4 linked regions of the Homo sapiens genome follow. The protein of the gene in region 1 purifies or fractionates together with the protein of each later gene. This does not show direct contact. Each region holds a gene or a part of one and is shown in the gene's direction. Other genes may lie near its edges.

Region 1 (4,057 bases):
TCGGCCTCCCAAAGTGCTGGGATTACAGGTGTGAGCCACCATGCCCAGCCAATCTGAGCTATTTAAAAACTAAAGGTAAAATTTTAAAAGGGGAAGGGGAAAATGGGAAGTCATTGTTTTAAGGGGACAGAGTTTCTGTTTGGGGTGAGAAAACTCTAGAAATAGTGGGGGCGTGGCACATGATTGGAATGAATGGCAGGGAACGGCACGCTTAAATGTTCCTGTACGTTTCACAGGAGAAGTCAATGCACACACAAGCGCCGCAACCCAGTCCAAGGCTTTGCTCCTACAGGGCCTTACAGGGGGTATTTGAGACGCCCACCTTAATGCAGGTTGGACCCAGCTCCGGGCTGCGGGGCTTCCCCGCCCCGGGGTCTTTCGTGTGAGCCCCGTGGCGGGGGATCCTGGCCCAGGACATGGCGCGGAGAAGGCTGTGGGCGGCGGGACAGGGTGCCTTCGGCTGCCGGGTTAAGAGTGGATCCCGGGATACATCCTCCAGCGCCTGCCCTCGGGCCTGTGTGCACCCCCATACCCAGCGGGGCCGTCCAAGAGCTTCAAGGAGGGCACAGCGCGACCCGCCCTCCCCTCAGCCCCGCACACCGTCCCACGGCCCCGCACAGCCTCCCTCCCACACAGCGCCCCACGGCACCCGCACAGCGCCCCACGGCCCCTTCATGGTCCCCGCACAGCGCCTCACAACCCGCACACAGCGCCTCACGGACCCTTTACGGCCCCCGCAGAGTCTCCCACACGGCGCCCCACACAGAGCCTCACGGACCCCGCACAGCGCCTCAAGGTCTCCGCACAGCCCCCAGCACAGCGCCTCACACAGCCCTTCGCACAGCCCCCCGCACAGCTCCTCACGGGCCCCACACAGCTGCCGCACAGCCCCGCACAAGCCCGCACAGCACCAGCAGACAGGTAGCCCCCACAGGCAACAGCGCCCACCTCGCCGCGCCCAGACCCCGGATCGCCGACGCGGACGCCAGGCGCCTGGGCACACGGCGCCTGCGCAGACAACACCACGCCCCAGGCCTGGCGAGCGCACCCTGCGGGTGGGGCGGACCTACGTCAGCAACCCATCGTCCGATCCCGTCCATTGGCTGAGAGGTAATGCGTGCGCCCGACTCGCCGCTGATTGGTCGGCGCGCGAGCAGCCGGGCTCGCACGGGCCAATCCTGTGGTAGCGCGTGAGGAGGCAGAGGCCTCTGGGGTGGGATCGCGGGCCGTAAGTGGCTGTGGAGCTGGGGTCACTGCGCGGTGGGACCATGGCCTCGGAGAAGCCGCTGGCGGCAGTCACTTGTACAGCGCCGGTCAACATCGCGGTCATCAAGTACTGTGAGTGCCGCGGGCCGGCCTGGGACGGGGATGGCCGGGAGCGAGGCCGGGTACGCGGGGGTCGCGCGCTGATTCGGCGGCGCGCTCCGTCCTGCCCTCCCAGGGCCTCGACAGACGGGGAAACTGAGGCTCAGGGAGGGGCGCGGCGGTGGTCGGGCGGGGCCGCGCGCTCCTTCGCGTGACAAGCTCGGCGCCACCCGTTCCCCCGCGACGGCTGCCGCCCCTGCAGGGTCGCCCGGCGCCTGCCCATTAGCGATTACCGAACTATCGAAATCATCAATCATCGATTCCCATGAATCGTAAGAATCCGCCGTGGTGGTGCGCGTTTGTGGCTCCAGCTACTCGGGAGGCTGAGGCGGGAGGATGGCCAGAGCCCGGGAGGTCGAGGCTGCAGTGAGCGGAAATCGCGCCACTGCTCCCCCAGCCCGAGACCCTGTGTCCCTCCCTCGCCCCGTTTCTCCCAGCGGTAACCTCCAAGGAGCGGTAATGGGGGGCCCGCAGGCCCACATCCGTGCCGGGGAGGCCGGTCCGCACCTGTGCGTTCACAGCCCCGCCCCTCCCCTCGCGCCGGGGTTACCTGGCCGCCACTGACCACTCATTTCTGTAACGTCATTTCAAAATGTTCTGAAACTGGAATCGCAGTTATGTGGCCCACCCAGTATCTTTTGAGTTTGGCTTATTTCATTCAGCATAGAATGTGGACGTGCCCCGGGATTGTATCAGTGCTTTGCCCCTCTGTTGCTGAGCCAGTCCGTGGAATCCATGGACCACCCTCTCTCTAGCCAAGGCCTCACCCCGCAAAGAGCATCTAACGTTTTCTTTCTTTCTTTCTTTTCTTTCCAGAAGCCGCCACCACGACTGGCTAATTTTTTTGTGTTTCCCTTACCAATAAAGCTGCCATAAAATGTTGTATACAGGTTTTTGTGTGAACATACATTTCCATTCTTCTGGGATAAATGCCCAGGAGTGCGGTTGCTGGGTCAGATGGTAGATATATATATATGCCTCTCTGTCTCTCTCTCTCTTTCTATGTATATATGTATGTTTGTGTGTGTGTATATATATATACACCTGTATAGATATATGTGTGTGTATATGTATACACCTATATAGATGTATGTGTGTGTATATATACATATATATATTATATATATACTTTTTTTTTTTAAAGAAACTGTCTAATTGTTTTTCAGAGTGGCTGGGCCATTTTGCATCCCTACGGTGATGCAGATTTTCCGCATCCTCACCAGCATTTGGTGGAGTTGCTGTTTTTCATTTTAGCCGCGTCCTGGTAGGGATGTGCTGGCAGGGTGCTGTGGTCCTCATTCGCGTTTCCCTGTTGGCCAGTGACGTGGAGCATCTTTCTTTGTGCTTATTTGCCATCTGTGGGTTTTCTTGGTGAAATCTCTCTTCATATTCTGTGTCCACGCTCGAACTGGATGGTTTGCTTTTTTACTATAAGTTTGGAGAGTTCATTACACATTCTAGGCTGGGCACGCTGGCTCAAGCCTGTAATCCCAGCACTTGGGGAGGCTGAGGTGGGCGGATCACCTGAGGTCAGGAGTTTGAGACCAGCTTGGCCAACATGGTGAAACCCCCGTCTCTACTGAAAAAAAATAAAATATGTATTCTAGATATTAGTCTCCTGTTGGACATGTGGTTTGCAGGTATTGTCTCCCAAACTAGCTAATCTTTTTGTCCTCTTAACAAAGAGCCAGTTTTTCATTTTAAAGAAGTTCAGTGTATCAATGTTGATGTCAAGTCTAAGACCTCTTTGCTTAGCCCTATGTCCTGAAGATTGTCTGCTTTCCTCCAAGTTGTACAGGATTGCCTTTTATATTTAAGTCTGTGATCCAAGGTTGTCCAGTTAGCCCAGAAAGGCTATCCTTCCTCTATTGAATTGCTTTTGCACTTTTGTAAAAAAAAAAATCAGCTGGGCATGTTTGTGTGGGTCTATTTCTGGATTTTCTCTTCTGCTATTTTTTTTTTTTTTTTTTTTTTTTTTGAGACAGAGTCTTGCTCTGTCACCCAGGCTGGAGTGCAGTGGCACAATCTTGGCTCACTGTAACCTCCGCCTCCTGGGTTCAAGCAATTCTCCTGCCTTAGTCTTCTGAGTATTTGGGACTACATGCACGTGCCACCACACTTGGCTAATTTTTGTATTTTTAGTAGAGATGGGGTTTCACCGTGTTAGCCAGGCTGGTCTGAAGCTCCTGACCTCGTGATCTGCCCACCTCAGCCTCCCAAAGTGCTGGGATTACAGGTGTGAGCCACCGCGTCTGGCCTTTTATTTTTATTTTTTATATTTATTTATTTTATATTTATATTTTTATATTTATTTGTATTACTTTTATATTTATTTTTTTGAGACAGACTGTCACTGCGACACCCAGGCTGGAGTGCAATGGCGTGATCTCGGCTCACTGCAACCTCCGCTTCCCGGGTTCAACCGATTCTCCTGCCTCAGCCTCTCGAGTAGCTGGGACTACAGGTGTGCGCCACCACACCTGGCTAATTTTTGTACTTTTAGTGGAGACGGGGTTTTGCCATATTGGCCAGGCTGGTCTTAAACTCCTGACCTCAAGTGATCTGCCTGCTTCGGCCTCCCAAAGTGCTGGGATCGTAGGTGTGAGCCACTGAGGCTCACCAACAGTGATATTTATGGAAACGTGTCCATTTTCTTGTAACGTTCAGAGACTCTGGTCTTCTTTAAACCTTA
Region 2 (2,616 bases), on another chromosome or scaffold:
CTATATGCACTTACGGTTGTGTGTTTAAAATGTCTCTCTCACCCCCTAGCTTCATGATGTGACTCTTAAAAAACTATAATAGTTAACAACTGTTAGTAAGATAGACCAATTCTGATTAGACTTTATCAGGGAATCTGTTTAAGATATGTTTGGTGACCAAAACGTATGTGTGAATGTAGTTATAATGCTTTTGAAAAATTTTCCTTTTTCTATATCCCCTTAGTCCAGCCTCTCTTCTCAGACATTTAGCTATCTGCCTCTTTCCTTTAGCTGGGAAAGTGAGAGCTGGCATACTATGCAGTTTTTATGTTTTCCATAGTAAGTCAGAAAATGCCTCCTATTTCTGGCATCAGAACTTTGCCATTTGTCTACAGAAGACGAACCAGAGACAAAATTACTAAGTATAAATTAGTCAAGTTTATCAGTCTAAAAAACGAAGGGATGTGCAACTGCAGCTCTTTAAGAAGTTTTTTTTTTTTAGCTTCTAGGGTAAAGATAAATTCAGAAATGCTCTAAGCTACCAAAGTTATTCTGAAAGTATGGGAACTGCTACAACTAACAAACATTTGTTTCCAAGCCTGTCATTAAGAGTCTGCATCAAGAGATTTGTCCTCCTTGGGGGACCACTGGATCATTCCAGATTTCTTGTGATTTTTCTATTGTGTAATTCTTGGTGGGCTCTGTAGTTTAATAATAAGAAAAAGGCCATTTCATTTTAAATTGTGACCTATAATTCTTTGTCTTGGGTTGGTAATTCAGGATTCATTTGGAAAGTGGGTAAAAGGGGCTTCAAAAAACGGATAGAACAGGATTTTCTAGGAGTTACACATACATTTTATCCTGTCATACCTCGAGATAAAGTGGCATGTTAGTGAGGAGTTCTGATATTAAGCACACACACACATGCACACAAATGGACTTCTCTGAAGCTGTGTTTAGTGAAATGAGCTCAAGTACATGAATGTTAGTTGTTATCACATACAGCAAATTCCTTTTTTTTTCTTTTTCTATGAGCACACTCTGCTGCTTCTAAACTTTACATGCCTGATGGCACCTTACTCCAGCAGCCTCCAGGTGCTTTCATTTTCACTTCCAGTCTAAGCCAGTGGCTCCTGCCACTGCCCTCCCATTACCTAGATGGCACCTCCTTTGGTGAAACCACGGCCAATGTTCCTTAGCTGCACCAGGCCCGAAGCTGTTCCCATGCTTGAGCTTCCATGGGGAGGATGCTGAGTGAGCAGTTTCCTACCCCGTGGATCTAGCAAGCCATGGAGACAGGTAGCATTTGTAAGATGCTGCACAGGAGCAGCATTATCCCCAAAGATATTACAGGGTAGACACGTTTTAACTGAAATCAATCAAGATAACTTTATTCAAAGAGCAGCCCGCTTTGTGTGACTAAAATGAAACAAGACAGTTGAATTGTGTGACTTGAAGATTACCAATGATTTTGAGGCTTTTCTATAATAAAAAGAGGTTCTAACCATTATTTGGGAACAAAGAGAGTTTTCATCTTTTTTCAGATCAAAACCATTCTGTAAAATCTTTGTTGTTTAATTAAATGTGCCGTTATTTACCCCTGATGTTATTTATGACTATGTGCCGATTCCTGCTCGGGCTGTTTGCTGTTGGCTGGTAATAATATATTTGATTTAAATGCTGTTGACTGTGCTATTAACTGCTGCCGTCAGTAAACTCCAAAGATCTTTTTGTTTTGGCTTTAGTATCATATGTGCTTTTTCTGTATCCTGAGCGCTCTATATGATCATGTTAATTTAAAGCTTTATACACATTGTTGTTTTTGCTGGTCTCATCTTTGGTAATATGCTATACCCCACTGCTGCCCGACACTGCCCTTTAGCTGCAGAGCTGGATTAGCTGTTGACCATTTGATGCTGTTGTCTGTCTGGCAGGGACTGAATGACCTGATGTCAGATTTAGATTCTTCCTGGGGATTACACAGCTATGAATGTATTTGCTTCTAAAACCTCCCAAAGTGAATCTAATCTTAAAACTACAAGTTGTAAGTATTCTGAAATTGGGAAACATTTATTTTAAATGCAATCAGGTAGTGTTGCTTTTTACAGCATAATAAATATATGTATCAAAAAAAAAACTGTGTGGAAAAAATGAATTTTCTTAAAACAATTAAGAGCCAGGAACTCCACTGAGCATACAGACCATCTCTGGTTAGGTTCCAATCCATTTCTAATGCCTGCTATAAAGCTAGGTACTACACAAGGTGTCAGATGGGGTTGCCACAATGACTAGGACAAGAATCCTGTGTAGAGTTCACCTTTGAAGGTGAGGGATGTGCAGGCATGTCTCTAGTCCTCTAGATGCAAACACTATCCTTTTACAGTTAGGAAGTGCTCAGTAAATATTTGTTGAATGGAACCAGTAAACATACCCTTGAATGAGAAGAGAGGTTATTTTCACAAAGCCTTGAAATTTATTTAGAGAGTTGAAGCTAGTACTGCCACACTAGAATCTGAGTGTCACCAGCCAGTACACCTCAGCTCCTAATTTATTCTGCGTGGGAATAGCATTCGCTTCCAATGCCAGAAATCCCTGGTCTTCAGAGCACTCTTTCCTTTCAGGCCAGGGGTTAGTGTA
Region 3 (3,500 bases), on another chromosome or scaffold:
TTTGTCTTTGGTTCTGTTTATATGCTGGATTACATTTATTGATTTATGTATGTTGAACCAGCCTTGCATCCCTAGGATGAAGCCCACTTGATCGTGGTGGATAAGCTTTTTGACATGCTACTGGATTCAGTTTGCCAGTATTTTATTGAGGATTTTTGCATCGATGTTCATCAGGGATATTGGTCTAAAATTCTCTTTTTTTGTTGTGTCTCTGCCAGGCTTTGGTATCAGGATGATGCTGGCCTCATAAAATGAGTTAGGGAGGATTCCCTCTTTTTCTATTGAGTGGAATAGTTTCAGAAGGAATAGTACCAGCTCCTCTTTGTACCTCTGGTAGAATTCGGCTGTGAATCCGTCCGGTCCTGGCCTTTTTTTGGTTGGTAGGCTATTAATTATTGCCTCAATTTCAGAGCCTGTTATTGGTCTGTTCAGGGATTCAACTTCTTCCTGGTTTAGTCTTGGGAGGATGTGTGTGTCCAGGAATTTATCCATTTCTTCTAGATTTTCTAGTTTATTTGCATAGAAGTGTTTATAGTATTCTCTGATGGTAGTTTGTATTTCTGTGGGATCGGTGGTGATATCTCCTATATCATTTTTTATTGTGTCTATTTGATTCTTCTCTCTTTTCTTCTTTATTAGTCTTGCTAGCGGTCTATCAATTTTATTGATCTTTTCAAAAAACCAGCTCCTGGATTCACTGATTTTTTTTGAAGGGTTTTTTGTGTCTCTATCTCCTTCAGTTCTGCTCTGATCTTAGTTATTTCTTACCTTCTGCTAGCTTGTGAATGTGTTTGCTCTTGTTTCTCTAGTTCTTTTAATTGTGATGTTAGGGTGTCAATTTTAGATCTTTCCTGCTTTCTCTTGTGGGCATTTAGTGCTATAAATTTCCCTCTACGCACTGCTTTAAATGTGTTCCAGAGATTCTGGTATGTTGTGTCTTTGTTCTCATTGGTTTCAAAGAACATCTTTATTTCTGCCTTCATTTCGATATTTACCCAGTAGTCATTCAGGAGCAGGTTTTTCAGTTTTCATGTAGTTGTGCAGTTTTTAGTGAGTTTCTTAATCCTGAGTTCTAATTTGATTGCCCTGTGTCTGAGAGACGGTTTGTTGTGCTTTCTGTTCTTTTACATTTGCTGAGGAGTGCTTTACTTCCAACTATGTGGTCAATTTTGGAATAAGTGTGATGTGGTGCTGAGAAGAATGTATATTCTGTTGATTTGGGGTGGAGAGTTCTGTAGATGTCTATTAGGTCTGCTTGGTGCAGAGCTGAGTTCAATTCCTGGATATCCTTGTTAACCTTCTGTCTTGTTGATCTGTCTAATGTTGACAGTGGGGTGTGAAAGTCTCCCATTATTATTGAGTGGGAGTCTAAGTCTCTTTGTAGGTCTCTAAGGACTTGCTTTATGAATCTGGGTGCTCCTGTATTAGGTGCATATATATTTAGGATAGTTAGCTCTTCTTGTTGAATGGATCCCTTTACCATTATGTAATGGCCTTCTTTGTCTCTTTTGATCTTTGTTGGTTTAAAGTCTGTTTTATCAAAGACTAGGATTGCAACTTCTGCTTTTTTTTGCTTTCCATTTGCTTGGTAGATCTCTCTTCATCCCTTTATTTTGAGCCTATGTACGTCACTGCACGTGAGATGGGTCTCCTGAATACAGCACACTGATGGGTCTTGACTCTTTATCCAATTTGTCAGTCTGTGTCTTTTAATTGGGGCATTTAGCCCATTTACATTTAAGGTTAATATTGTTATGTGTGAATTTGATCCTGTCATTATGATGTTAGGTGGTTATTTTGCCCGTTAATTGATGCAGTTTCTTCCTAGCATTGACAGTCTTTACAATTTGTCATGTTTTTGCAGTGGCTGGTACCAGTTGTTCCTTTCCATGTTTAGTGCTTCCTTCAGGAGCTCTTATAAGGCAGGCCTGGTGGTGACAAAATCTCCCAGCATTTGTTTGTCTGTAAAGGATTTTATTTCTCCTTCACTTATGAAGCTTAGTTTGGCTGGATATGAAATTCTAGGTTGAAAATTCTTTTCTTTAAGAATGTTGAATATTGGCTCCCACTCTCTTCTGGCTTGTAGGGTTTCTGCCGAGGGATCTGCTGTTAGTCTGATGGGCTTCCCTTTGTCGGTAACCCGACCTTTCTCTCTGGCTGCCCTTTACATTTTTTCCTTCATTTCAACTTTGGTGAATCTGACAATTATGTGTCTTGGAGTTGCTCTTCTCGAGGAGTATCTTTGTGGCATTCTCTGTATTTCCTAAATTTGAATGTTGGCCTGCCTTGCTAGGTTGGGGAAGTTCTCCTGGATAATATCCTGCAGAGTGTTTTCCAACTTGGTTCCATTCTCCCTGTCACTTTCAGGTACTCCAGTCAAATGTAGATTTGGTCTTTTCACATAGTCCCATGTTATTTGGAGGCTTTGTTCATTTCTTTTTACTCTTTTTTTCTCTAACCTTGTCTTCTCACTTTATTTCATTAATTTGATCTTCAATCACTGATATCCTTTCTTCCAATTGATTGATTTGGCTATTGAAGCTTGTGCGTATGTCATGAAGTTCTCGTGCCATGGTTTTTCAGCTCCGTCAGGGCATTTAAGGTCTTCTCTACACTGTTTATTCTAGTTAGTCATTCATCTAACCTTTTTTCAAGGTTTTTAGCTTCCTTGCGATGGGTTAGAACATGTTCCTTTAGCTCAGAGAAGTTTTTTATTACCAACCTTCTGAAGCCTACTTCTGTCAACTTGTCAAAGTCATTCTCCATCCAGCTTTGTTCTGTTGCTGGCGAGGAGCTGTGATCCTTTGGAGGAGAAGAGGCACGCTGGTTTTTAGAATTTTCAGGCTTTCTGCTCTGGTTTCTCCCCATCTTTGTGGTTTTATCTACCTTTGGTCTTTGATGTTGGTAACCTACAGATGGGGTTTTGGTGTGATGTCCTTTCTGTTGATGTTGATGCTATTCCTTTCTGTTTGTTAGTTTTCCTTCTAACAGTCAGGTCACTCAGCTGCAGGTCTGTTGGAATTTGCTGGAGCTCCACTCCAAACCCTGTTTCCCTGGGTATCACCAATGGAGGCTGCAGAACAGCAAATATTGCTGCCTGATCCTTCCTCTGGGAGCTTCGTGCCAGAGGGTCACCCGCCTGTATAAGGTGTCTGTCGGCCCCTACTGGGAGGTGTCTCCAGTTAGGCTACATGAGGGTCAGGGACCCACTTGAGGAGCAGTCTGTCCTTTCTCAGAGCTCAAACGCCATGCTGGGAGAACTACTGCTCTCTTAAGAGCTGTCAGACAAGGACGTTTAAGTCTGCCAAAGTTTCTGCTGCCTTTTGTTCAGCTATGCCATGCCCACAGAGGTGGAGTCTATAGAGGCAGTAGGCCTTGCTGAGCTGTGGTGGGCTCTGCCCAGTTCGAGCTTCTCAGCCACTTTGTTTACCTATTCAAGCCTCAGCAATGGCGGACGCCCCTCCCCCTCCAGGCTGCAGCCTCACAGGTGGATCTCAGAC
Region 4 (3,500 bases), on another chromosome or scaffold:
CCAGCTACTTGGAAGGCTGAGGTTGGAGGACTACTTGACCCCAGGATGTCGAGCTGTAATGAGCCGAGATCCTGCCACTGCCCTCCAGCCTGGGCAACAGAGCGAGACCCTGAATCAAAAAATGATAATAAATGAAAACAAAAATAAATAAAAGAATATATGAGATTAGAGAGTGACATGTGGGTGCTATTAATTCTGTGCCTTGTTTGTGGTTTGGTTTAGAAATGGGCTTTTACTAAAAAGAGAAAAGGAAGGTATTGGGAGAGAGGAACATTTAATCCTTTTTTCAGCAACATTAGTGATTCTTCGTATTTAGTGATTACCCAACCAGCTGAAATGAATGTTAAAACTGAGACAGAGAGTGAAGAGGAGGAAGAAGTCGCATTAGATAATGAAGATGAAGAACAGGAGGCTTCCCAGGAGGAGTCTGCAGGATTTCTTAGAGAAAATCAAGCCAAATATACACCCTCATTGACAGCTTTGGTAGAAAATACACCCAAAGAAAATTCCATGAAAGTTCGTGAATGGAATAATAAAGGTGGACACTGCTGCAAACTTGAGACTCAGGAGCTAGAGCCTAAATTTAACCTGATGCAGATTCTTCAAGATAATGGCAATCTTAGGTATGTATCTTTTATAATTATATTAGTAAAACTGATAACAGCTAACTTGTACTGTGTACCAGCTACTATTTTAGTGGTTTTACAGTCATTTTTCATTTAATATTTACAGAAGTCCTATGAAATAATGACTGTGATTAGATACTGTTATTATTAAGGAAACTGAGCCTTAGAGAGGTTAGGTAACTTGTCTAAGGTAGAGCTATGATACAAACCCGGGTCTCATTGGTTGGGCATTTGTGTCAGTCACTGAGTATAAGGTAACTGGGACAAGGAGCTCAAGCAGCTCGTCGTTTAGTATCAGAGACAGAGAGCTCAGGCCATGGCCCCACTATGAACAAAGTGGTCTTAGGACACAGAAAAAGAGTGATTGGTCTGGCTTGGGAGGGCTAGAAAGGCATTATGGATGAGGGAAAATTTGAATCAGGCCTTGACAGATGAGTAGGGTTTCAGGAGCTTTGGGAAGTGATGGTTAAATGTGGGAGTGCTAGGTAGAGGCAATAAAGACGTAGAGGTGGCCAAGCTCAGTGTCTCACACCTATAATTGCAGCACTTTGGGAGGCCGAGGTGGTCGGATCACCTAAGGTCAGGAGTTCGAGACCAGCCTGACCAACATGGAGAAACCCTGTCTCTACTAAAAATACAAAATTAGCTGGGTGTGGTGGTGCATGCCTGTAAGCCCAGCTACTCGGGAGGATGAAGCAGGAGAATTGCTTGAACCTGGAAGGTGGAGTTTGCAGTGAGCCAAGATTGTGCCATTGCACTCCAGCCTGGGCAACAAGAGTGAAACTCCATCTTAAAAAAAAAAAAAAAAAGACATAGAGGTGTGATAATACAGTCATTCATTAAGTCCCTCAGTGAGTTTTTATTGAGCACCTGCCCTATGCCAGTTGTGCTAGGCCATATCACATTACTGTGGGGACCAAGATAGGCCTGGAGTTTACAGTCTAGTGGGGAAGAATGACAGTTAACAAAGAAACAAGGTCATTTCAGGTCGTGAGAAATGCTGTCAGGACAATAAGATGGTGTAATGTTAGAATGTAATTGGGCAGAGTTACTTAATTGCAGTGATCTGGCATGAAGAGGTAACCTTTGAGGTAAGTCCTGAATGATGAGGAGTCAGTCGTGTGAATAGTAGGAGGCAGAATACTCCCAGCAGAATAGCAAGTACAAAAGCCCAGACATCGTAATGAGCTTGGTGTGTTTACAAAATACAGACTAGAGGAATTATATAAGGAGAAGAGCATGGTAAGAAATGAGACTAAAAAATTGGATGTTGTTAGATTGTGAAGGGCCGTAAGAGGAGCCTAAGCTTTATTTTCTAGATGACTTTTAAGCAGATAAATGATACGGTGAGATCTTGTTTTAGAAAGTAAATCGTGCTTGCATTGTGGGATAGTGAAACTAAAGGCAGGGGGGTGAGTTAGGGACTGTTAGAATTGTCCAGAGCCAGGAAGATGAAGGCCTTGATCAGAGTAATGGCTTTAGGAGTGGAGAGAATGGGATGGACTTAGTAAAATTTGCAAAGTAAAATTGATGAGACTAAGTTTTTCACATTTGGAAACTTGGTGGTGCCTTTGGTCAATATAAGGAACATAGGAGTTGGTTTCATGTTAAAAACAATGAGTTTGATTTAAGATGTAGTAAGGAAGAAGGGTTCTGGGCTAAAGTCCAATAGACAGGTGGACAGCTTTGTTGATCAAGGTTGAACAGGATTGTATAGTTGGTAGGTAAAGTCTTGCGAATGGATAAGATTGTTCACAAATTTATTTGGTTCAGCAAGGATAAAAAAAGAATTGAGCCCTGGGGAATACCACTGTTCAATGGGTAAGTCAGTAAAAAGGTCAAGATGTAGCAGTTAGAGCAATAGACATAAGATCAGGAAGGAGTAGTATGGTAAAAGCTGCAGAATGAGCATTTCAGGTCTGTAGAGCCTCAAACAGCCCTAGTTAGGATGAATAGTGAAAAGAGACTTCTGGATTTGTGACCTAGGGCCAACTGAGTAGGTGGAAGACCAGTTGTGAGTGGAGAAAATAAGAAAGCAAGTGTGAACTAACTGTCTAAGGGTTTGGCAATGAAAGGAAGGTAAGAATGCATCAGGGAGACAGCCAGCTAAAAGAAACGGATTTTTTTTTTTTCTTTTGAGAAGAGGTTCTGGAGGTTGTTTATAGACTAAGGGGAAGGATTTGAGGATAAGAGGATTAGAAATGCAGAAATGGACATATTGGTAGAGAAGAGTACTAAAGGAAGGTGGGAAGAGGCCAGAGGAGGGAGTATCTCTTCCTATCAGTCAGAAAGAAAGTGCTATGGGATGAATGAAGTTGACAGAAGTTTAAGAGCAAGGAAGTTTAGCCGTTTATGCATGATAGTCTTTATTTCTAAATTAGAGGCCAGTTCTTATACTGAAAGGCTGGAGGGTGACATTGGAGTAGCAGGGGATAGAGTTAAGGTTTGGAACAGTGTCATGGAGAATAAGAATAGTTCTGTCAGTGGAGAATAGAATATGCTAAACTCAGTCAGAAGACCTGAGCTCTGGCTGTTTTAGTGCTACCAACTGGCCGTGTGGTCATAGACAAGTCAAAGAGCTTCTATAGGCCTCAGTTTCCTTTTCTGTCAATCCAAGATGTGGAGTTAGACAAGTGTTTTTTCAAACTTCTTCCTAGAGGGAAAGAAGATTTCACTGAATTGAAAATAGAGCATTTGAAAACCACTGGACTGTATTCTAAGGTCCTTTCCAGCAATAACATTCTGCTTAGTTGTTGTAGAAATAAATTATTTCTTCATGAATCTTGTGGCTCTCGCTTTGAATGAGTAAACTGTTAAAATTGCAGGCTGCGTTAGTGTCAATCAGTGGTTTTCAGACTGTGTTCCCTAAAGCTG

The links. The genes of interacting proteins can lie anywhere in the genome.
Region 2: the proteins of MVD (region 1) and GLS fractionate together in Homo sapiens (co-fractionation; one large-scale study listed by BioGRID). This does not show direct contact.
Region 3: the proteins of MVD (region 1) and NSDHL purify together in Homo sapiens (affinity purification with mass spectrometry; one large-scale study listed by BioGRID and IntAct). This does not show direct contact.
Region 4: the proteins of MVD (region 1) and TTLL5 purify together in Homo sapiens (affinity purification with mass spectrometry; one large-scale study listed by BioGRID and IntAct). This does not show direct contact.

The regions. Positions count from the first base shown.
Region 1 is NC_000016.10:88,660,292-88,664,348, reverse strand, and holds the start of MVD (diphosphomevalonate decarboxylase), read left to right. Parts: upstream 1-1,257; 5' UTR 1,258-1,268; coding exon 1,269-1,338; intron 1,339-1,567; exon of another isoform or gene 1,568-1,630; coding exon of another isoform or gene 1,631-1,637; intron 1,638-3,711; exon of another isoform or gene 3,712-3,829; intron 3,830-4,057. UniProt on the Homo sapiens protein: Catalyzes the ATP dependent decarboxylation of (R)-5-diphosphomevalonate to form isopentenyl diphosphate (IPP).
Region 2 is NC_000002.12:190,963,437-190,966,052, forward strand, and holds the end of GLS (glutaminase kidney isoform, mitochondrial isoform 1 precursor), read left to right. Parts: 3' UTR 1-2,116; downstream 2,117-2,616. UniProt on the Homo sapiens protein: Catalyzes the first reaction in the primary pathway for the renal catabolism of glutamine. Plays a role in maintaining acid-base homeostasis. Regulates the levels of the neurotransmitter glutamate, the main excitatory neurotransmitter in the brain.
Region 3 is NC_000023.11:152,837,563-152,841,062, forward strand, and holds part of NSDHL (sterol-4-alpha-carboxylate 3-dehydrogenase, decarboxylating), read left to right. Parts: intron 1-3,500. UniProt on the Homo sapiens protein: Catalyzes the NAD(P)(+)-dependent oxidative decarboxylation of the C4 methyl groups of 4-alpha-carboxysterols in post-squalene cholesterol biosynthesis. Also plays a role in the regulation of the endocytic trafficking of EGFR.
Region 4 is NC_000014.9:75,765,746-75,769,245, forward strand, and holds part of TTLL5 (tubulin polyglutamylase TTLL5), read left to right. Parts: intron 1-316; coding exon 317-623; intron 624-3,500. UniProt on the Homo sapiens protein: Polyglutamylase which modifies tubulin, generating polyglutamate side chains on the gamma-carboxyl group of specific glutamate residues within the C-terminal tail of tubulin.